2 linked regions of the Homo sapiens genome follow. The protein of the gene in region 1 interacts with the protein of each later gene in a biochemical or structural test. Each region holds a gene or a part of one and is shown on either strand. Other genes may lie near its edges. The genes, in order: RPE65 and SLC27A1.

Region 1 (7,112 bases):
CCCAATCAGGCTGCTGATATACTCTGCCTTACCAAGGACAAGCCTAGCCCAAGGCAGGGATAAGAAGCAATGTTCTGTCTCCCCTTCATCACAGGCAGGATCCCCCTCTGGCTCACCGGCAGTCTCCTTCGATGTGGGCCAGGACTCTTTGAAGTTGGATCTGAGCCATTTTACCACCTGTTTGATGGGCAAGCCCTCCTGCACAAGTTTGACTTTAAAGAAGGACATGTCACATACCACAGAAGGTAAAGCAGCACTCCATGCCACTCCTCCTCCTCAAAGTAGGGCCTAGCTTGGCTCCTCCTCCCATGTGAGTTTTCACCTCTGAACTCAGGAGGCAACCTATATACCCACTTTCTTCTCACAATGTACCTGGGCCAGTGTGTCTGCATGGATACGAGGGAACATTATCATGGAATAAAGGAGAAGCTAAAGCCTAGGGCTTTGGGGTCCAACATGAGTGGCTTTAAACCCTGTATTCAACAGACATGACTTGCCTAGGAGGGTAACCTTGGCAAGATGTTGACCTCCAATTCTTGGTTTTATAATTAGTAAAATGGGAGAAATAATAGAATCTACCTTATATATTCATTACAAGCATTAAATGAGAGCGCAGTGTCTAGCACACACAAAGCACTTCATAATAATAGCTATTGTGATGCTTGTTATTATTATTAAACCATTGGCCATCTTGATTCCTTTTTCTTTTTATAAAATTGGAAAGGCCACTGGGAAAGGGGTCGGGGGCTGCCACAAAGTAGTGAAGGATGAAACATGTCATAGTGCTACCAGAAAGAGAAGTTTTCTGAAAACAAGAGATTATTGCTAAAAAGCCTTGAAGCCCTAAATCATCATTCCAGGAAACCCCCATTAATGAAGTATTAACAAATACTTTGTCTTCTGCTTTCGTGTTCAAGCCTATTAGTGGCTTTGTTGATCACCACAGATTTCAGGCATTTTGAAAAGACCTGTAAAGAAAAAGTGAAAGGGGACTTGAAGCAGGACAACTTGCATGATAATAGAAGAGAAACGGATGATGTCAAGCAGAAATGTAGCCATAAGAGCTTACTGTGGAGTTCAGATAAAGCTTCCTATACCTTCGACAGAGCAGGGTACTCTTTCTTCTTCATAAAAGTGCGACCGGGTGTGGGTGGCTCACATCTGTAATCCCAGCACTTTGGGAGGCCAAGGCGGCCAGATCACTTGAGGTCAGGAGTTTGAGACCAGCCTGGCTAGCATGGTGAAACCCCGTCTCTACTAAAAATACAGAAAAATTAGCCGGGCGTGGTGGTACACGCCTGTAGTCCCAGCTACCTGGGAGGCTGAGGCAAGAGTATAGCTTGAACCCAGGAGGCGGAGGTTGCAGTGAGCCAAGATTGCGCCACTGCACTCCAGCCTGGGCAACAGAGCAAGACTCCATCTCAAATTAATTAATTAATTAATTAATTAAAAGTACAAAATCAGATTTTAACTGGCTCTCCATATCAGAAATCCTGGGCAAAGTATGCTGTCTACTCTAAGATATGGTTTAGCAGACCTGTCTAGGCAAGAGATGGAATTCAAGAATACTTAATTTTTAAAACAAAATAAATGTTAAAATTGAAGAAAAACATAAAAGTAACAGAGGGAGATTGAGAAGAATATAATTCAGCACACCATGTCCGGAATTTTCCCAGTAAGTTTAGGTTGATAGGTTATAGGTGATGGGGGTGGGGGTCCTATGTGAACTTCCCCCAGGGCTGCATGGTGTGATATAGAAAGTTCATGTTGTCCTGCTCTGGCCAACTAGGATTCTAACCCAGCTTGGCCACATATGCCAATCACTTAACTCCTCTGAACCTCAATTTCCTCATCTGTGAGGTTTAAAAGATAAAAACGTAAACTCAAGGGACATTGTGTCTGCCCTGCTTGGTCACCCCAAGAAAGTGAGCTAATAAAACCCTTTATTCTTCATGTTGTGCATTTATGATTGTGACTTGATGAGGACACATAGAATGGCCATTCTAAGCTCCACATGGGCTGTACGGATTGCTCCTGTCTATACTCTTCCCTATGTTTCAATGTCCTTCAGGTTCATCCGCACTGATGCTTACGTACGGGCAATGACTGAGAAAAGGATCGTCATAACAGAATTTGGCACCTGTGCTTTCCCAGATCCCTGCAAGAATATATTTTCCAGGTTACTGAACCCAAACTGAATGTTACTCAAGACATTTTATATTAGCCCTTTTTCTCTCATGGCTTGAAAATTACTGGACTGAAAAATTCATTTGTTTCTACAGGTTTTTTTCTTACTTTCGAGGAGTAGAGGTTACTGACAATGCCCTTGTTAATGTCTACCCAGTGGGGGAAGATTACTACGCTTGCACAGAGACCAACTTTATTACAAAGATTAATCCAGAGACCTTGGAGACAATTAAGCAGGTGGGACACAGTGCTAGGTGATGTTCAGGAATTTAGAATTTGGAACTTAAAATTAATTCAACATAAATTATTCATGCTGCGAATGTATGATTCTAACTTGATGAGGACACACAGAATGACCATTCCAAGCTCCAAATGGACTGCACTGATTGCCTCTGTCTATGATGCTTTCCTGCAATTGGTGTAATTTGGTGAAAAGAACATGAGAGCCACATTAAGTTTCAAATCCTAGCATTGTCAACAATGACTAGCTATTTGACATAGGACAAACATTGTTTCTTCATCTCTAAAATTTTAAACACTTACATGGATTGGAGAGAACCCATATAAAATGCCTAACATATTCATTCATTCATTCATGACACAAATACTTATCAAGTGCTTTCCATATTCAGAATTTATGCTAGATGCAAGGGATAGATCAATGAGTAGGGTAACATGGTCCCTGCCTTTCATAGCTTTTATAAGCTAGCATGAACCTGGTAAATACTGGGTGCTCAAAAAATTATAGCTACTGATACTGAAAATCATGCTATTTATGGTTCTAGGCAAGTATGTTGCACTAATTTGCCCCTTCTTATAGATACTTCTTATTAGAAATAAAGCTATATCTTGAATGAAATAGCATAGAACAAAATTTCAGCAATATTTGGAAGTGACAAATTTTATGGAGAACTTAGGGAATCTCAATGCAGCAGTCCTTAGATACACATTTTGAACCAATATTTACTAAGATACACCTATTTACAAGGCATTGTTCTTGTCTTCAGGTGACTTAATGTCTAGGTGGAGAAATCAAATATGTAACTGTAATAGGACAAAGAATATGACGAGTCTTTTAAGAAGGAAAATCTTTTAAGAAAGCATAAATACGAAAGGAATTACTTCTGGAAGTAGTTGGCAATGCAAGGTGGGACAGGTGAAAGAAGGCTTAAAGGGAAAGGCTTTGGGCTGGAAGTTAAAAGAGAGGGATGATTTCAGTGAATTTAGAGAAAGGATATGCTAGATGGAGGGGGTAAAGCGATCAAAAGCATGGAGGTAGAAGGTGTTCATGAAAACTGGAGAATAATCTCCTTGGACTAGACTTGCAGCATTTCTCAGTGGAGGTATTAGTATGACATTAGGCAGGGGGTGACTCATCATCATGGAGACGTCCCACACATGGGAGAGGTTTGGCATCCCTGGCCTCATCCACTAAACACCAGTCATGTTTTCAATCATTATACAAACCCAAAACGCTCCTGACATTTCCGTATCTTCCCCTAGGGGGCAATAACACTCCCAGTTGAGAACTAGTTGCCTAGAGTAGTTAATGTCAAGGGGAATATTGAGACACAGGGTAGGATGAAATTAAAAGCTTGAATAATTGGCTATACATTTGGAATATGTTGTTTAGCTAATGGGAAGCTACTGAAAGTTTTTGCTCAAAGAAGTAGTATGAGTAGGGCTATATTTTCAGATGTTTATTTGGGGAGCCATGTGTGGGCTGTACGGGAAGGCAAAAGAGATACAGTATAGCTGGGAGACCAAGAGGTGAAACTAAAAGCCAGAACCACAAATGCAGTACTGGTAAAAATAAGAAGAAAAAAAATAGTCTCAACATTGAGTCTCAATAGCACAAGCTGATCTATAATTCTCAACAGACTATTTACTATGTCTTAACATACACTCCCCATAGCTCTTTCTTGTTTATGTTGTGTGTGTGTAACCATATACAAGTGTGTGTGTAGCTCCTTTAGAGAAGAACAAAAGCTGAGTTTCTAAATCATTCATTTGACTTTGATAGGGAATCTGTATTACAATTACATGATATTTTAATTAGAAATATAGAAGCTATGGTATGGCTGCAGAATAGACTTTATTAGGAGTCAGGTTCCACTGTTACTAGCACTGTAAAATGTAATTTTAAAAATGTGAAATTTTTGATTGTTTACTGTTATTAACCAGTGCCTTTGCCTCCAGCCTGATTCCCTTAAATACAATTTATTTAAGGCAGCAGTAGCAATTTTTTAAAATATAAATATGAAAGTATTACTCCACCTAGGGAATCCATAACTTCCCAAATAAAGTCCAAGCGAAGGTCTTTGTGGCTGGCCCACTCTTATTTCGCCTCCTCTACGCATGCCCTTCATGGCAGCCAGGTTAAATGACTAGTAATGGCCAAACAGCACACATTATTTCACAAGTCTATGCATTTACATTAGGATTCCCACTCCCTGGAATACACTGTCATCCTGCTCCACTTGGCTAACTCCACGCACCTTTCAAACATTAGTTGGAGTCATGTTTCTCAGGAAAACTGCCTCATCCCTCAGTCTGGGCTAGATGGCGCTTCTCTACGATGCCATTGCACACTCACAGTGCTTTACACCGGCTTATTGGTCTAATGCAGGGCTGTCCAATAGAACTTTCTGCAATAATGGAAATGCTCTATAACTGTGCTATCCTGGTGTTATTAAGCACTTGAAATGTGGCTAATGTGACTGAGGAGCTGAATTTGAAGTTCTATCTAAAAATTAGTGGTCCTGTATTAATAGAACAGCACGGGTCTAGAATGAAGTTCTTGAAAGCAAAGATCTTCTCTCTCCTGAGCCCTGATACAGTGCCTGGCACATAGTGAAAGCTCAGAGTATTTGATAAATGATTGACTGAATAAATGAATATCTTGCCTATTATTTAAATAAGGTTGCTAAAATGTCCTATGCTTTAAAAAAATCTCCCTAATTAATTGGAAATAATTTTGGTTAGATAAATATATATTCCAGTAATTATTCATTCAATAACTCTTTACCAAGTAGGTCCCAGGTGGAAATCTAGTGCTGATTTATCTAGCTCTTTATCCTTAAACAAGACACTTGATCTCTCTGGAACCCCAATTTATCCTTCTGCAAACAGAGATTTGTGTTACATTTGTAGTTCTAAACTTCTTATGAGACATAAAATTGAATTAAATGCTGTATGCTTTTGCCAGAAATGTTTATATTTAATTAAAAGAGATCCATGGTTCTCCTAAAGTCTATTTAAATTAAGACTTTCTATACTAGATGAAGCTTGAAGTCCCTTTCAGTTCCAAACTCATACAGTACCATGTGCAAGACATATAGTTGGTATTTACATAGTACCATACGAAATTGACATTTTTGGAAATCAGCAATTATTAAATGTTAGCAATCTTATACAATTAAATCTAATACAATAATAAGAGTATAAAGAAGTCTGAGGACTCAAACTTATGGTTTCAGGTCAATCTGCATATGCTAAAAGAAAAGTAACTAACCAGAGCACTGTATGGTATACATCAAATAAAGAGATGTCACAGGTAACTCCAGATTCAGACACATGAGGGGGCATTATGTTCTGCATGAAGGTGGGAACTCAAGGTGAAAGAGGGTAGAATCCAGAGAGATGGGAAGAAAGAGAAGTGCACTTAGGATGAGAGTTCAAGGGGTAGTGATGACCTCAGACCTAGGGACAAAGGTATAATGTATCTTCCTTCTCTCAACTGGAGGACATTCACTTTACTTCCGTAGGTTGATCTTTGCAACTATGTCTCTGTCAATGGGGCCACTGCTCACCCCCACATTGAAAATGATGGAACCGTTTACAATATTGGTAATTGCTTTGGAAAAAATTTTTCAATTGCCTACAACATTGTAAAGATCCCACCACTGCAAGCAGGTGAGTTTACCAATCTGTCCTCTTCTGAAAATAAGTGTCTATATTGTGAGAAAGTTACTGTATTGTGAGAAAGATAAGAATGTCAGAATAGCATTTTGTGCATAGTTAAATTACTCTCAGACTTCAGAAGTACTGCCCTCATCCCTACCCTATAAGGGGCCTAATGCCCAAGGGCATCATATCAAAGGATGACGACTTGAAAATATAGAAAGCAAGTGTCCAAGTTCTCTTCTAGAATATTAAAAATGTAGTACATATATATATATGGATTTGATCATATACAATTAGGATTCAAACTTAGCAAACATTTATTGAGCACTTATTCATGTGCTAGGCAAAATTAAATTAAATAAGCATGTATGTGTGCATAATAGCATACATACATATATGAGAGTGTACTAAATATGTTGCGCTTAATTCCCAAAACTACAAACAAATCTGTTATCTCATAGAAGTACTATAGAAAAAGAACTACAGCAAAAAGAGTGTACCCTAGAATTCTCCATTCATTCTTCATTTATTGCCAGGTTCATTGTTCACCACCTTGATGATGGAATTATTTGAATGTATACAGATTTTTGTTTAGTATTATTTAGTACAGTTCTCAAAGTGTAGTCCTTGGACCAAGACCATCACCTAGGAAACTGTTAGAAATACAAATCTTGAGCCTTGTCCTGGGCAGACTGAATGAGAAATTTTGGGAGTGGAGCCTGCAATCAGTATTTTAAGAAACTCTTTATGTGATTCTGATGCACACTAAAGTTTGAGGACCATTCACTTACTAGTGAGTAAATTTTAATGTGCATAAGAATTACTGTACAGGGCTATTGACACAAACCCATCTAAACTATATCCTTTGGGCATCTTAAGATGTTGCAAAAGGCATTTTGACCATTCTGAGGTTTCTTCCCTACTCCCCTGACTTAAAACCCACCTCCAGCTATTGCAAGATGTGACTCCACTACACTCCACTTGCCACAACCCTATTTGAGTGCACGTTTCCAAATCTG
Region 2 (16,173 bases), on another chromosome or scaffold:
CCCCCGGCAGGAGACCTCCCCTGACCCCTCTGCTGCCTCTCCTGTGGGACCCTCCAGTAGACACACCAGATGAGGACACCCAGGAGGCCTCCTCCCAGGACAGGAGGCAGCTGGCTGGGCAGCCACGCAGTGCAGGGTTCAGGGCCCTCCAGCAGGAGCTCCATGGAGATGGCTAAATGGGGACATCAAGGCAGGGGCTGACAGTGGTGACATCCAAGTGGTCACAGTCAATTCCGGAAGCTTTCAGGGCATCAGGAGGGGAAGGTGGGGCTGGGGAAATGTGACAGGAACGGGGAAGTGCAAAAGGCAATTGGCCTAGCCTGGGAGATTTTCCAGTTGGCCTGGGGGACCCCCGGCTCCTCCATTCAGCAGGGAGGGCGGAGGGCCTGCTTGGAAGTCACATGGAGCTGCAGCATCTGGAACCCAACAGCCACAGGAGGCCTGGATCGGGGCTCCGTAAGGCACAGCCGAGAGGGAGGTGGGGAGGCCCCAGTCCGAGTCCAGGGCCCAGGGGAGATGATTCCTGCAGTCCCCAAAAGCAGCTGGACCCTACACAAGATGCAGCTCCCAGGACACGCGTGTTCCACTCTCGGCAGGAGAGGAGAGGAAAAAGGAAAGGCCGGGCCAGAGGCTCACGCCTATAATCCCAGCACTCTGGGAGGCCGAGGCCAGCGGATCACCTGAGGTCAGGAGTTCAAGACCAACCTGACCAACATGGTGAAACCCCGTCTCTACTAAAAATATAAAAATTAGCTGGACGTGGTGGCGGGTGCCTGTAATCCCAGCTACTCAGGAGGCTGAGGTGGGAGGATCACTTGAACCCCAGGAGGCAGAGGTTGCAGTGAGCCGAGATCCCACCACTGCACTCTAGCCCGGGCAGCAGAGTGAGACTCTATCTTAAAAAAAAAAGAAAGAAAGAAAGAAAAGAAAAAGAGGGAAGAGTTAAGGCCAGACAGGGACAGGGATGGAAGGAGACAGAGGCTGAAAAGCAGGGAGAGGAGGCAGACACAGGGGCACCAAGGCAGCAGAGAGGCACGGGTTCCTCTGAGGTTCCAGTTTCTCAGTCCAGGATGGGCCGTGCCAGGTACAGCTCGGCCAGGTGGGTGTGTACTAGGCGGCCACCCCTGGGCAGCGCTGTCTGGCTCAAGCTGGCCTCTCCCACCAGGCCCAGAGTTTGTGGCCAGTAGAGGAACAGCTTCAGAGGGCGAAGGCGCCCGAGCAGATGCGAGTGTAGACTGCCTCATTTAAGGGCAGGTAGTGGCCCTGCTTCAGGTCCAGGAAGAAGAGCCGGTCTGAGGTCTGGCGTGGGTCAAAGCCCTCTCGCTGCAGCCTCGTCTTCTGGATCTTGAAGGTGCCTATAGTGGGGATGGGGGGCAGATAAGGGCTGAGCAGGTGGCTTCTGGGAGGCCTCAACTCAATATCCTCTCCTGCACCTCTGGACCTTCCCACAGGCTGTCCCCTGGGCAGGAATGTTCTTCCCCATTTTGCCTGCCTGATTCCCCCTTGTCTGTCAGATCCTGGCTTCATGCCCCCTCCTCCAGTGAGGCCTCCCTAACCACTCCTCACCAGGGCAAGAAAATGTACACCCTGCCTGGTCATGTGTCCATTCCCCACATGACAGGCAGGGCTGTGTCTGTTACACAGTGAATAAGAGTTTAGCAACTTACATCCTGTGGGCCAAATTTGGCCCTCCACCTGTTTTTGTAAATAAAGTTTTACTGGGGCCGGGCACAATAATGGCTCATGCCTATAATCTCAGTACTTTGGGACGCCAAGGCAGGAGGGTCGCTTGAGCCCAGGAGTTTAAGACCAGCCTGGGCAACATAGTGAGACTCTGTCTCTGCAAAAACCCTTTTTTTTTTTTTTTTTTTTTTTTTTGAGACATAGTCTTGCTTTGTCACCCAGGCTGGAGTGCAGTGGTGTGATCTCGGCTCACTGCAACCTCCACCTCCTGGATTCAAGTGATTCTCCTGCCTCAGCCTCCCAAGTAGCTGGGATTATAGGCGTGCACCACCACACGTGGCTAATTTTTAAAATTTTGGTAGAGACAGGGTTTCACTATGTTGGCCAGGCTGGTCTCGAACTCCTGACCTCAAGTGATCTGCCCGCCTCGGCCTCTCAAAATGCTGGGATTACAGGCGTGAGCCACCGCACCCGGCCAACAATTTTTTTTTTTTTTTAAATTAGCTGGGTGTCATGGCACGTGCGTGTAGTTCCGGCTACTTGGGAGGCTGAGGTGGGAGAATCACTTGAGCCCAGGAGGAGAAGACTGCAGTAAACTATGATTGCATTATTGCATTCCAGCCTGGACAACAGCAAGATCTTGTCTCAAAAAATAAATAAAAATTTAGAAATAAAGTTTTATTGGCACACAGCCATGCTCATTCATTTGCACATTGTCTATGGCTGCTTTTGCACAAGAATAGCAGTGTTGAATAGCAATCGAGGCTGTATGGCCTGCAAAGCCGAAAATATTAACTATCTGGTCCTTTAAGAAAAAGTTTGCCTGAGCCCAGGACTGCGAGACCAGCCTGGGCAACACAGTGAGACCCTGATATATTTTGGCTGTGTCCCCACCCAAATCTCATCTTGAATTGTAGCTCCCATACTTCCCACGTGTTGTGGGAGGGACCCGGTGGGAGGTAGTTGAATCATGGGGGTGGGTCTTTCCCGTGCTGTTCTCATGATAGTGAAGGGGTCTCACGAGATTTGATGGCTTTATTTGGTGGTTTTTAAAGGGGAGTTCCCTTGCACACACTCTCTTGCCCTCCACCATTAAAAAGTCCCTTTGCTTTTCCTTCGTCTTCTGCCATGATGGTGAGGCCATCCCAGCCATGTGGAACTGTGAGTTCCATTAAACCTCTTTCCTTTATAAATTACCCAGTCTCGGATATGTCTTTATTAGCAGCATGAGAATGGACTAATACAGACCCCATCTCTACAAAAAATCAAAAAAATTAGTCAGGCATGGTGGTGCCTGCCTGTAGTCCTAGCTACTCCAGAGGCTGAGGTGGGAGGATCATTTGAACCCAGGAGGCTGAGGCTGCAGTGAGCTATGATAGTGCCACTGCATGCCAGCCTGGGCAACAGAGTAAGACCCTGTCTCAAACAAACAAACAAACAAAAAAAACAAAAGAAAAAGAAAAGATACACCGAGGCCGGGTGCAGTGGCTCATGTGTGTAATCCCAACACTTTGGGAGGCCAAGGCAGGTGGATCACTTGAGGTCAGGAGTTCAAGACCAGCCTGGCCAATATGGTAAAACTCGATCTCTACTAAAAATACAAAAAAATTAGCTGGGCATGGTGGTGCACACCTGTAATCCCAGCTATTCAGGAGGCTGAGGCAGGAGAATCGCTTGAACCCAGGAGGTAGAGGTTGCAGTGAGCCAAGATCACGCCACTGCACTCCAGCCTGGGTGACAGAGCAAGACTCCATCTCAAAAAAAAAAAAAAAAAAAAAAAAACAAAAAAAACACTATTTCAGAATGCTTAGTGGCAGTGGAAGTGAGGAATGGAAATAAATAACTACTAAAATAAAACAGCAGAAGGGACCCGTGAGAGCCCACAGTGCTAGCTGGCTGTGAGCCCTTGTGTCAGTCCCAGGACACTGTCCTGAACTAGGATGAGTAAATGGTTTGGATATGGTTTGTTTGTCCGCACCAAAAATCATGTTGAAATTATTATTATTATTTTGAGACATTGTCTCACTCTGTCACCCAGGCTGGAGTGCAGTGGCCTGATCTCGGCTCACTGCAACCTCTGCCTCCCAGGTTCAAGCAATTCTTCTGCCTCAGCCTCCTGAGTAGCTGGGACTACAAGTGCATGCCACCATGCCTGGCTAATTTTTTTTTGTATTTTTAGTAGAGACACAGTTTCACCATGTTGGCCAGGCTGGTCTCGAACTCCTGACCTCAGGTGATCCACCTGCCTCAGCCTCCCAAAGTGCGGAGATTACAGGCGGGAGCCACCACACCCGGCCAGGTATTCTTTTTTTTTTTTTTTTTTTGAGACAGAGTATCACTCTATCGCCCAGGCTGGAGTGCAGTGGCGTGATCTGGGCTCACTGCAAACTCCGCCTCCCAGGTTCATGCCATTCTCCTGCCTCAGCCTCCCAAGTAGCTGGGACTACAGGCACCCGCAACCGTGCCCGGCTAATTTTTTGTATTTTTAGTAGAGACAGGGTTTCACTGTGTTAGCCGGGATGCTCTCGATCTCCTCACCTCGTGATCCGCCCGCCTCGGCCTCCCAAAGTGCTGGGATTACAGGCGTGAGCCACCGTGCCTGGCCCCGGCCAGGTATTCTTTTAGAGCAACACAAAATGGACCAAGACATGAATCAACAGACACACTGATGGATGAAGAGAGAGATTGGAGTGGGGGAGACTCGCACCTGTGGTGTCCACCTGGGGCAGGAGGCGCAGGAAGATGGGCCGGGCATAGGGTGCCAGCACCTTCTGCAGCTCCTGGTATATCGCGTTGGGGTCCAGCAGGCTGTGGGGGTCTGCGACGGCCGCCATCCCTGCCTTACCCTCCACTCCTGGAGGCAGAGGCTCAGCTGAGGACACCCCGCCTCTCATCCTCCCCACCAGCAGGACCAGATACACTGTCAAGCAGTAGCCCCTGGTCTGTAATCTCCAGTCTCTCCCAACCTGGGATGACATTTATGGAAGCAGCCACACATTTTGTGGAGCTCCTGCTTGGCTCATTGAAGCCCTAAGACAGGTGGGCTTTCATGATCCCATTTTCTGGATGACAAAACTGAGGCTCAACATCACCCAGGTGAACTGGCTCCAGATCCAGTGCTTCCTCCTGGGCTGCCATGAGCAGTTGTCCAGGTTGTGCACTGCCCAAAGGCATGTGTACTTCTAAGCCCCTTTTGGCTGAGCTCCCTCAGGACCATGCCTCAGGACCACCCCCTGCAACCCCAGCTTGCCTGGAACAGCCACCCCATAGACGGCCACGTCTGTCTGGCCCAGCAGGCGGCTCAGCACGCCCTCCACCTCGGTGGTGGAGACGTTCTCCCCTCGCCAGCGGAAGGTGTCCCCGCTACGGTCCCGGAAGTACATGTAGCCCAGCTCATCCATCACTAGCACGTCACCTGGCAGAGGGGAGAGGGGCAGATGGGTGGAGGATCCCCATCCGCACAGCCAGTCACCGGGGCCTAGCAGGCTGCGCACCTGAGAGGTAGGCGCTGTCGCCCTTGCTGAAGACGCTGTGGGCGATCTTCTTGCTGGTGGCGCTCTCGCTGACATAGCCATCGAAGCGGCGCAGCGGGTCCTGTTGGTTGATCTGACCCACAAGGAGGCCAGGCTCCCCTAGGGAGAAGGCCATGTTCAGGCTGCGCTAGGCAGGCAGGGCGTGGGGACCCCTGCTCCGGGTGGGGACCATGCGGGGGCCCTGCTCACCGGCCTGGCAGGGGATGCAGAGGCCCTGGGCATCCCGCAGCAGCTCCATTGTGTCCTCATTGACCTTCACCAGCCGGATGGGGTACACGTGGGGCAGGATGCGGCTGTTGAAACCACAGGAGCCGACCTGGAATGGGGTGAACTGAGTTGGAAGGAGCCGGGGATATGCGGGGTCCTTCTCAGTAACACTTTGCCTGCCTTGCCCTGGGGCTTGGACCTAGCACCTCCAGTGTCATTCTAAGCTCTGTGACCTTGGCTGATCTGCAAAAGCAGGGTAGTAAGCGTCGCCTCCAACTCAGGGCCCCTCCTCCCACCTTCCCAGCCTGCATTCAGTCAAGAGAAGACCTCTGGCTGGCACCCACTTCCTGATCCACAAAACCCTCCATGCTGGCAGGAAGTAGATGCCTCTGTGTGGACACTACAGCTACGTCAGACACTGCAGAGCTTCACCTGCTGCCCGCCGCCCTGCTTGGCATGGTTCTATGAACAGAAATGCTTCTCCAACATGTTTGAGCCACTACACCCTGTCTGGTGTGTTTCTTTCTGCTTTTCCCCCTTCCTCCGTTCCTCCCTTCCTTCCTTCCTTCCTTTTTTTATAGAGTCTTACTCTGTCGCCTAGGCTGGAATGCAGTGGCGCAATCTTCGCTCACTGTAACCTCTGCCTCCCACGTTCAAGTGGTTCTTATGCCTCAGCCTCCTGAGTCTGGGATTACAGGCGCATGCCACTGAGCCCAAACAATTTTTTTTTTTTTTGTATTTTTAGTAGAGATGGGGTTTTGCCATGTTGGCCAGACTGGTCTCGAACTCGTGACCTCAAGTGATCCACCCACCTCAGCCTCCCAAAGTGCTGGGATTACAGGCGTGTGTGGGTGGCAAGCTACCCAGGTGCCGAGGCAAGAGACCGAGGGCACGAGCCATTCCAGTATAATAAAATATATAAAACAACAAGAGTTATACTAGATCTAGATCATAGACATGATTATATATGAATATCATTAGTCATCAGTTTGTAGCAATTACTCTTTATTCCAGTATTATAATAATCCTCGCTCTGTAATCATAACCTAGAAAAAACCGGGCCATAGAGAGATAGGAGCTGAGGGGACACAGTGAGTAGTGACCAGAAGACAAGAGTGCGAGCCTTCTGTTATGCCCGGACAGGGCCACCAGAGGGTTCCTTGGTCTAGCGGTGACGCCAGCGTCTGGGAAGTCTAGTCTAGCGGTAGCCTTAGTGTCAAGGAAAAACACCTGCTACTTAGTGGACCGGGAAAGGGAGTCTCCCTTTCCCCCGGGGAGTTTAGAGAAGACTCTACTCCTCCACCTCTTGTGGAGGGCCTGACATCAGTCAGGCTTGCCCACAGTTATCCGGAGGCCTAACCGTCTCCCTGTGATGCTGTGCTTCAGTGGTCATGCTCCTAGTCCGCCTTCATGTTCCATCCTGTACACCTGGCTCTGCCTTCTAGATAACAGTAGCAAAATTAGTGAAAGTACTAAAAGTCTCTGATATGCAGAAATAATGGCATAAGCTGTCTTTCTCTCTCTCTCCCTCTCTCTGCCTCTGCCTCGGCTGCCAGGCAGGGAAGGGCCCCCTGTCCAGTGGACGCATGACCCACGTGACCTTACCTATCATTGGAGATGACTCACACTCTTTACCCTGCCCCTTTTGCTTTGTATCCAGTAAATAACAGTGCAGCCAGACATTCGGGGCCTCTACCGGTCTCCGCCTCTTGGTGGTAGTGGTCCCCCGGGCCCAGCTGTCTTTTCTTTCATCTCTTTGTCTTGTGTCTTTATTTCTACAATCTCTCGTCTCCGCACACAGGGAGAAAAACCCACCGACCCTGTGGGGCTGGACCCTACAGGCGTGAGCCACCGTGCCTGGCCTGGTGTGTTTCCTATGCAAGAATCTGAGCTACAGTGAGCAAAAGTGCCCTGGGGGCTGGCCATCCAACACCAAGCACACTGAGGAAGGAGCATTGTTCTTGGCATTAAGGACCCAGCCCCCATGGCACTTGCTGTTTTTTTTTTTCCTTTTTAGAGACACAGAGTCTCACTCTGTTGCCCAGGCTGGAGTCCAGTGGTGTAATCATAGCTCACTGCAGCCTCGATCTCGTGAGCTCACGTGATCCTCCCGCCTCAGCCTCCTTAGTAGCATTGACTACAGGCACCTGCCACCATGCCTGGCTAATTTTTTATTTTCTGTAGAAAAGGGGGTCTCACTACATTGGCTATGCTGGTCTCAAACTCCTGGGCTCAAGTGATCCTCCTGCCTCAGCCTCCCAAAGTGTTAGGATTACAGGTGTGAGCCACTGTGCCCAGCCGACATTTGCTTTATGATCATTATTACGGTCTGTTCTTGGCCTTGGATGGGAGGGGCTTGGGAAAGGAGAGGGAGATTCATGCAAGCGGAGAATGGAGATGATTAAGAGAGTAAGTAGTTGCTAATTATGAAGGTATCTGTTTGCTGCTACTTGGGAGGCTGAGGCAGGAGGATTGCTTGAGCTCAGGAACTGAAAGCTACAGTGAGCTATGATCACGTGGCTGCACTCCAGCCTGGGCGACAGAGCGAGACTCTGTCTCAAACAACAACAACAAAATAACAGCACGGTACACAGAGCCCTATTCTCCTTGCTAATCTCCACACGCAGAAACTGAGGCTCAGAAAGGCTGAGGCACTTGCCAGGGCGCACAGCCATACCTATCCTCCAACTCTCCTGACCCAAGGACCACAGTCACATGACTATCTGTGCAGGCTGCAGGATTGTCCCTCTGGTGGTGCACCGGGAGTCCCAGGAACTCCCCTTACACCCCGCCCTGCGTGCGCCTTGGCGGAGCCTTCCGCGCCAGTCCAGGCTGTTTTATGTATCCCAGGGGCCCCAGGAAGAGGAGACAGTGGTCTTCCCTGAACTCCGAGACCTGCCCCGGGGCCCTGCCGGTGTGCACCTTGCCGTCCATGTTGGCAATGCTGCAGTTGCACTCGGTGGCGCCGTAGAACTCCCCGATTTGGCGTACGCCGAAGCGCTCCGTGAACTCCTCCCAGATGGCAGGACGCAGCCCGTTCCCCACCGCCAGGCGCACGCGGTGTCGCCTCTCCGCCTCGCGCACCGGCTGCTTCAGCAGGTAGCGGCAGATCTCCCCGATGTACTGAACCACCTGGGGGACGGGGTGAGGAAGTGGGTGATGGGACCGGCAGGCGGTGGGGAGCCCGGATCAGAGGAGAGACCCCGAGACCGCCCCACCCAGGGAGCTAATCCTATGAGCGGAACAGCCTAAGGATGATGATGGCTGCAGAATCGTCCACACTCCATTAGGGACCACATTGACTCCTAGGACTCGTTCAGTCTCTTGCAAAGGGTCTAGGATGCAGCTTTTTTTGTTGTTTTTTGGTTGGGGGTCTCCCTGTGCCGCCCAGGCTGGAGTGCAGTGGCATGATCACAGCTCACTGCAGCCTCTAACTCCTGGGTTCAAGTGATCTTCCAGCCTTAGCCTCCCGAGTAGCTGGGACTACAGATTTTTTTGTAGAGATGGGGGATCTCGCTCTGTTGCCCAGGCTGGTCTTGAACTCCTGGCCTCAAGCAATCCTCCTGCCTCAGCCTCCCAAAGTGTGAGATTCCAGGTGTGAGCCACTTGTGCCTGGCCGGATGCAACTTCTATCCAAGCAGATGCAGTGTCTTTCCTCCTCCCCCTACCCGCACCCCTTCGTGGTCCCTCGATTCTGCCAAGCAGCTTCCTGGAGATACCACATCCCTGTCTGAGCCTCAGCAGGCACACAGGGCAGGACTAGCAGGAGAGCTGGCACCCCGCAGGGCAACCCTCAGCCTGGAGCCTACACTGTCACCCAGAGCCCCCTGGCTGAGCCTGGGCTGGCCGGAGCGTCACCCCTGGGCAGACCACTCCCAGGTGCACCCACTAGGCTGCGCTGCGTCTGGACTGAGCCCCAGGTGCCCACGGAGCCACCTGCTCATGGGCTCCCCCTGCAGGACATCTTCCCTCCCTGCCACACATTCTCAAGCCCCGCAAGAGCTTCCTGGGGTCATCCACCAGGTGCCCCACGGTGCCTTTAAGAGTTCTCATCTCCAGTTGGGCTTCGGAATGACTCCCCCCCCGCCACTTTACAGATGGAGAAACCGAGGCTCACAGATGGTAAGGAACTGGAACGAGATCACAGAGCTGGGAAGTGGCAGAATTTGATTTGAACCCAGGCATCCCGGCCCCAGAGTGGGAATAAAACAGTTGCATGCCAGGGATTACCCACCAGATGGATCATAACAGCTGCAAATGTGCTCGGGGCTTCCCGCTCACACACAGGATGAAACCCACATTTCTTCCTGTGGCCAACTGGATCTGGCCCTGCCGCCCCTGCTGCCTCCTCTCCCTCCATCTCCGCTGAACACTCTGCCTCCTCAGGGACTTTGCACATGCTAGCCTTTTGCCTGAAGCAGTCTTCCCCCAGATGCATTTGCCTGAACTCTTCAGTCTCAGCTCAAACGTCACTGAGAGGCATCCCCTGTGCCCCCAGCTGTGCCCCTGAGAAGGTACTGACTAAATAGCTGATGACTAAACCAATATGATCAGCAGACACCACCGCCATGCTCTGAGCTGAGCTTGGAGATGAAGGCACTGAGGCCCAGAGAGGAAATGCAGTGCACCCAAGATCACTGGCTGCTGACCAACAGCAGGTCCCTAAGGGGGAGGGTCCTCTCCCTCCATTCTCAGACTTGGGCCACTGCCTTAGGTGTGGTACAGCCCACACCATCTCTAGGAGAGAACCTGGCCAATCAGCCCAGCCCCTCCTCAGCCAATATGACTGGCTTAAGAATGGGCACGGCCAGGCGGGGTGGCTCAAGCCTGTAATCCCAGCACTTTGGGAGGCCAAAGCAGGTGGATCACGAGGTCAGGAGATCGAGACCATCCTGGCTAACATGGTGAAACCCCGTCTCTACTAAAAAATACAAAAAATTAGCCGGGCGTGGTGGCACACTCCTGTAATCCCAGCTACTCGGGAGGCTGAGGCAGGAGAATGGCGTAAACCCGGGAGGCGGAGCTTGCAGTGGGCCGAGATCGCGCCACTGCACTCCAGCCTGGGCGACAGAGCGAGACTCCATCTCAAAAAAAAAAAAAAAATGGGCACATGGCTGGGCGCGGTGGCTCATGCCTGTAATCCCAGCACTTTGGGGGGCCGAGGTGGGCAGATCACTTCAGGTCAGAAGTTCGAGACCAGCCTAGCCAATGTAGTAATACCTCATCTCTACAAAAATACAAGAAAATTTTGCCAGACCTGGTGGCATGTGCCTGTAATCCCAGCTACTTGGGAGGCTGAGGCAGGAGAATCTCTTGAACCCGAGAGGCAGAGGTTGCAGTAAGCCAAGATCGCTCTATTGTACTCCAGCCTGGGGACAAGAGTGAGACTCCGCCTCAGAAAAAAAAAAAAGGCAAGGATTTTTACAGACAAGCTAGCAGGGAGGCTGTATCTGATCTAAATAGACCGTGAAAAACCGGTGAGGACCAGATGTGCCATCCGCATAGGGCGCAAATCTCTGGCAGCCCCCAACCCAATCTCTTATTATGCAGGTGAGTAGCTACTCTACGTTGCCTATTTTTTTTTTTTTTGGAAACAAAAAATCCTCGGTAGAACTTCCCTTCTAACAAAAAGCAGCCCAAGAAATCACTTATTTTCTAACAAAGAACAGCCTGGAAGATTGGGCTGCAAACACAAATAAGGAAGCTGGAAGCTTGCAGCAGGGGATGCCAGCAGCTGCACCGATAAAAAGGGCTACCTGTGGCCGGGCACGGTAGCTCACGCCTGTAATCTCAGCACTTTCGGAGGCCAAGGTGGGTGGATCACCTGAGGTCAGGAGTTCGAGACCAGCCTGGCCAACATGGTGAAACCCCATCTCTACTAAAAATACAAAATTAGCCAGGCGTGGTGGCACACACCTGTAATCCCAGCTATTCAGGAGCCTGAGGCAGGAGAATCACCTGAACCCAGGAGGTGGAGGTTGCAGTGAACTGAGATCGCACCACTGCACTCTGGCCTGGGCAACAGAGTGAGACTCCGTCTCAAAAAGAAAAAGAAAAAGAAAAAGGCCAGGCACGGTGGCTCACGCCTGTAATCCCAGCACTTTGGGAGGCCGAGGTGGGCAGATCATGAGGTCAGGAGATCGAGACCATCCTGGCTAACACCGTGAAACCCTGTCTGTACTAAAAAATACAAAAAAAAAATTAGCCAGGTGTGGTGGCGGGCGCCTGTAGTCCCAGCTACTCAGGAGGCTGAGGCAGGAGAATGGTGGGAACCCAGGAGGTGGAGCTTGCAGTGAGCCAAGATTGCGCCACTGCACTCCAGCCTGGGAGACAGAGCGAGACTCCGTCTCAAAAAAAAAAAAAAAAGAAACAGCTACCTGGGGCTGGGCATGTCCACCCTGGGGGCTCCACCATCCCTTTTTTGTTAGCACGTGTACAGTAAGAAAGAAATAAGCAACAAAAGCCGGCTGCTGTGGCTCATGGCTGTAATCCCAGCAGTTTGGGAGGCTGGGGCAGGCAGATCACCTGAGGTCAGAAGTTTGAGACCAGCCTGGCCAACATGGTGAAACCCCGTCTCTACTAAAAATACAAAAAATTAGCTAGGCTTGGTGGTAGACCCCTGTAATCCCAGCTACTCAGGAGGCTGAGGGAGGGGAATCACTTGAACCCAGGAGAAGGAGGTTGCAGTGAGCCGAGATCACACTACTCCATTCCAGCCTGGGAGATGCAGCGAGACTGTGTCTCAAAAAAAAAAAAAAGTAAGGTTCTAGATTATAGCCTGCTGCCCCCATGAGAATGGCTAGACTGCAACTGCTGCTACAGATAAAATAGCAGTGAGCAGTTTCTCATGAGATGTAATTTCTGAACCCAAATAAATGTATGCTCTTGTTTTCTCCTTGTGTCCTTATTAAACATCACCTTTAGAGATTCTGTCCTGTTTTTTTTTTTTTTTTTTTTTTGAGATGGAGTTGTGCTCTCTCACCCAGTCTGGAGTGCAGTGGCGCGATCTCGGCTCACTGCAACCTCCACTTCCCGGGTTCAAACGATTCTCCTGCCTCAGCCTCCCGGGTAGCTGGGACTACAGGTGCCCGCCACCATGCATGGCTAATTGTTTTTGTAGAGATGGGGTTTCACCATGTTGGCCAGGCTGGTCTTGAACTCCTGACCTGAGGTGATCCACCTGCCTCGACTTCCCAAAGTGCTGGGATTACAGGCGTGAGCCGCCGCGCCCGGCCCTGTCCTCTATTTTTCTTTTTTTTTTTTTGAGATGGAGTCTCACTCTGTCGCCCAGGCTGGAGTGCAGTGGCACAGTCTCAGCTCACTGCAACCTCCACCTCCTGGGTTCACAGGATTCTCCTGCCTCAGCCTCCCAAATAGCTGGGACTACAGGTGCCCACCACCGCACCTGGCTAATTTCCCATCCTCTATTTCTTTCTTTTTTTTTTTAAGACGGAGTTTCGCTCTCGTTGCCCAGGCTGGAGTGCAATGGCACAATCTCGGCTCTCACTGCAACTTCCACCTCCCGGGTTCAAGCAATTCTCCTGCCTCAGCCTCCTGAGTAGCTGGGATTACAGGCATGTGCCACCACGCCCTGCTAATTTTTGTATTTTTAGTAGAGATGGGGTTTCTCCATGTTGGTCAGGCTGGTCTCAAACTCCAGACCTCAGGTGATCCACCCGCCTCGGCCTCCCAAAGTGCTGGGATTACAGGCGTAAGACACTGCGCCCGGCCCCGTCCTCTATTTCTTTTTCTTTTTTTTTTTTTTTTTTTGAGATGGAGTCTCACTCTTGTCACCCAGGCTGGAGTGCAGTGGTGCGATCTCGGCTCACTGCAACCTCCACCTCCTGGGTTCACAGGATTCTCCCGCCTCAGCCTCCCAAATAACTGGGACTATAGGCGCCCACCATGCCTAGCTAATTTCCCATCCTCTATTTCTTAAAAAGCCTCTCAATGTTCACTGTGTGCCTTATTTGACACAGAAATTCCACTTCTAGGAAACTGACAGAATGAGCTTCCAAGGCCCAGGAGACAGTAAGTAGTAACCAATGCAAGATGGTGTGTCAAGGACAAAGAGAGACCATCAGACATGACGGGCTTCCCAGTGGGAGGACACCACACCACCCATAAGGAATCTTTGCCAAAAAAGTTGAGTTTGAAGCCGATAAAATATATAGACCAGCGATTCTCAAGCGGGGACCATTCTGTCCCCCAGGGACACTTAGCAACATCTAGACACATTTTTTTAATTGTCACAACTTGGGGGAAGGGGACTGCTACTGGCATCTGGTGCAGGGAGGCCAGGGATGTTGCTAAATATATGCTACAATGCACAGGACACGTCCCACCCCAGGGAATGATCCAGCCCCAAATGTTAAGAGTCAAACCTGTTCTGGACACTATCTCAATTTCTGTAATAAATAAATTCCAAGAGGGAAGAGAGACAGACAGAAAGAGAAAAGGCACCTACAGATGAAATATTTTCTTTTCTTTTCTTTTCTTTTTTTTATTTTTTTGAGATAGGGGCTTGCTCTGTTGCCCAGGCTAGAGTACACTGGCACAATCACGGCTGACAGCAGCCTTGACCTCCTGGGCTCAAGCAATCCTCCCACCTCAGCCTCCCAAGCAGCTGGGACTACAGGCACAAACCACCACAACCAGCTAGATTTTCAATTTTTTTGTAGAGATGAGGGACTCACTATGTTGCCCAGGCTGGTCTACAACTCTTGGGCTCAAGCGATCCTCCCGCCTCGGCTTCCCAAAGTGCTGGGATTACAGGCATGAGCCATTGCGCTCAGCCAAGAATTCTTACAAGACACATCAACCAGTCATAATGCTGGTTGTGTATTTAATTATGGAAATAAGAAAAAACACATTTTTGACATTGTGAGACAGAATTGAGCCACTGCCCAGATTCCTGATGACACTGAGATATCACTGTCACTTAAAAACAATGCTTACCAGACACAAAAGGCGACAGTGTCTGACTCCATTGATCTGAAATGTCCAGAACAGGCAAATCATAGAGGCAGGAAGCAGAATAGTGGTTGCCAGGGGCTGGGGGTGGAGGGATGGGGAGTAACTGGGGATGGGATTTCCTTTGGGGGGCATGAGAATGTTCTGGATCTAGATAGACATGGTGATTGTACATTGTGAATGCCACCAAATTACTGACTTTTTTTTTTTTTAAAGATGGAATCTCACTCTGTCACCCAGACTGGAGTGCAGTGGCCCGATCTCAGCTCACTGCAGCCTCCGCTTCCCAGGTTCAAGCGATTCTCCTGCCTCAGCCTTCCAGGCAGCTGGGATTACAGGTGTGTATCATCATGCCCGGCCAAATTTTTTTTTTTTTTTTTTTTGAGATGGAGTCTCACTCTGTCACGCCCAGGCTGGAGTGCAGTGGTGCAATCTTGGCTCACTGCAACCTCTGCCTCCCGGGTTCAAGCGATTCTTCCGCCTCAGTCTCCCGAGTAGCTGGGATTACAGGCACCAACCACCACGCCAGGCTACATTTCTGTATTTTTAGTAGAGACAGGGTTTCACCCTGTTGGCCAGGCTGGTCTCAAACTCCTGACCTCAAGTGATCTGCCCATCTCAGCCTCCCGAAGTACAGGGATTACAGGCGTGAGCCACTGTGCCTGGCCAAATTTTTCACTTTAATATGGCTAATTTATATGAATTTCACTTTAATTTGAAAAAACAAGTACTCATCTTTCAAAGGTTATAGTGAAACAGCTACACAGGAAACATGATGCCGTCTGAGGGATGCTTTATGCCATCACCGAGGGGAGGATGTGGGGAGGTGGGGAGGGGCAGGACAGGGTATCTGATAGCCTCTGGGTCCAGCTGAGGGGTGCACCAGAACTCTCTATACTTTTCTGTCCACTTTTATGTGTATTTGCTACTCTCTGTAATTTTTTTTAAAAGATAATTTTGGGCTGGGTACAGTGGCTCATGCCTGTAATCCCAGCACTTTGGGAGTCCGAGGTGGGTGGATTGCTTGAACCCAGGAGTTTGAGACCAGCCTGGGCAACATGGCGAAACCTCTTCTCTACAAAAAAAATTCAAAAGTGGGCCAGGCGTGGTGGTGCGCACCTGTAGTCCCAGCTACTTGGGAGGCCAATGCTGGAAGATCACTTGAGCCCAGGAGGTCAAAGCTGCAGTGAGCCATGATAGCGCCACTGCACTCCAGTCTGGGCAACAGAGTGAGATCCTGTCTCAAAAAATAATAATAATAATAAAAATATACTTTTGCATTTCAACATGCAGATTAGTAATTTTCCCAAGACCCTCCAAACAGAACCAAAACTCCTCAAAAGCGAAGCCAAGCACAGCTGTGGACCTTGTGGTATACCCCAAGATGCTCAGCCCAGAGCCCCCAACCCCTGCTCAGCTGTGTGACCTGGCCTGAATCTCTCTGGGCCCCATCTGTCCAATCTGCATCTGCCAACTTGCCACAGTCCCTGGACAACCTCTCACCCAATCCTTCCCAGTCAGCCTTGCTATTCCCTCCGGGCTCCATACCTGTTTCCTGTACCTCCCGCCTGTATTTCCTGTATCCTGCCCCACATTACAGCACTGAAACCCTCAGCCTGGTCTCCTCTCACTGTGGAGGGGAAAGAAGAATTCCTGTTCTTAACCTCTGCCTGCTCTCCTCTCCGGGACAGCAGATGCCTCCACCTCCGCCTCACGCGTTCCTCACCTGGAAGCCCCAGACTCATCGCCCTTCCCATCCCAGGGTCTCAATTCCCTA

What was found.
Region 2: the proteins of RPE65 (region 1) and SLC27A1 form a complex in vitro, tested with the Homo sapiens proteins (one study listed by BioGRID).

Annotation. Positions count from the first base shown.
Region 1 is NC_000001.11:68,439,843-68,446,954, reverse strand, and holds part of RPE65 (retinoid isomerohydrolase), read left to right. Parts: intron 1-94; coding exon 95-245; intron 246-2,071; coding exon 2,072-2,179; intron 2,180-2,282; coding exon 2,283-2,424; coding exon of another isoform or gene 2,425-2,445; exon of another isoform or gene 2,446-4,507; intron 4,508-5,954; coding exon 5,955-6,102; intron 6,103-7,112.
Region 2 is NC_000019.10:17,489,637-17,505,809, reverse strand, and holds part of SLC27A1 (long-chain fatty acid transport protein 1), read right to left. Parts: intron 14,735-16,173; exon of another isoform or gene 14,613-14,734; intron 14,418-14,612; coding exon of another isoform or gene 14,382-14,417; intron 8,556-14,381; coding exon 8,346-8,555; intron 5,533-8,345; coding exon 5,406-5,532; intron 5,316-5,405; coding exon 5,178-5,315; intron 5,099-5,177; coding exon 4,934-5,098; intron 4,538-4,933; coding exon 4,391-4,537; intron 1,356-4,390; coding exon 1,198-1,355; 3' UTR 1-1,197. UniProt on the Homo sapiens protein: Mediates the import of long-chain fatty acids (LCFA) into the cell by facilitating their transport at the plasma membrane.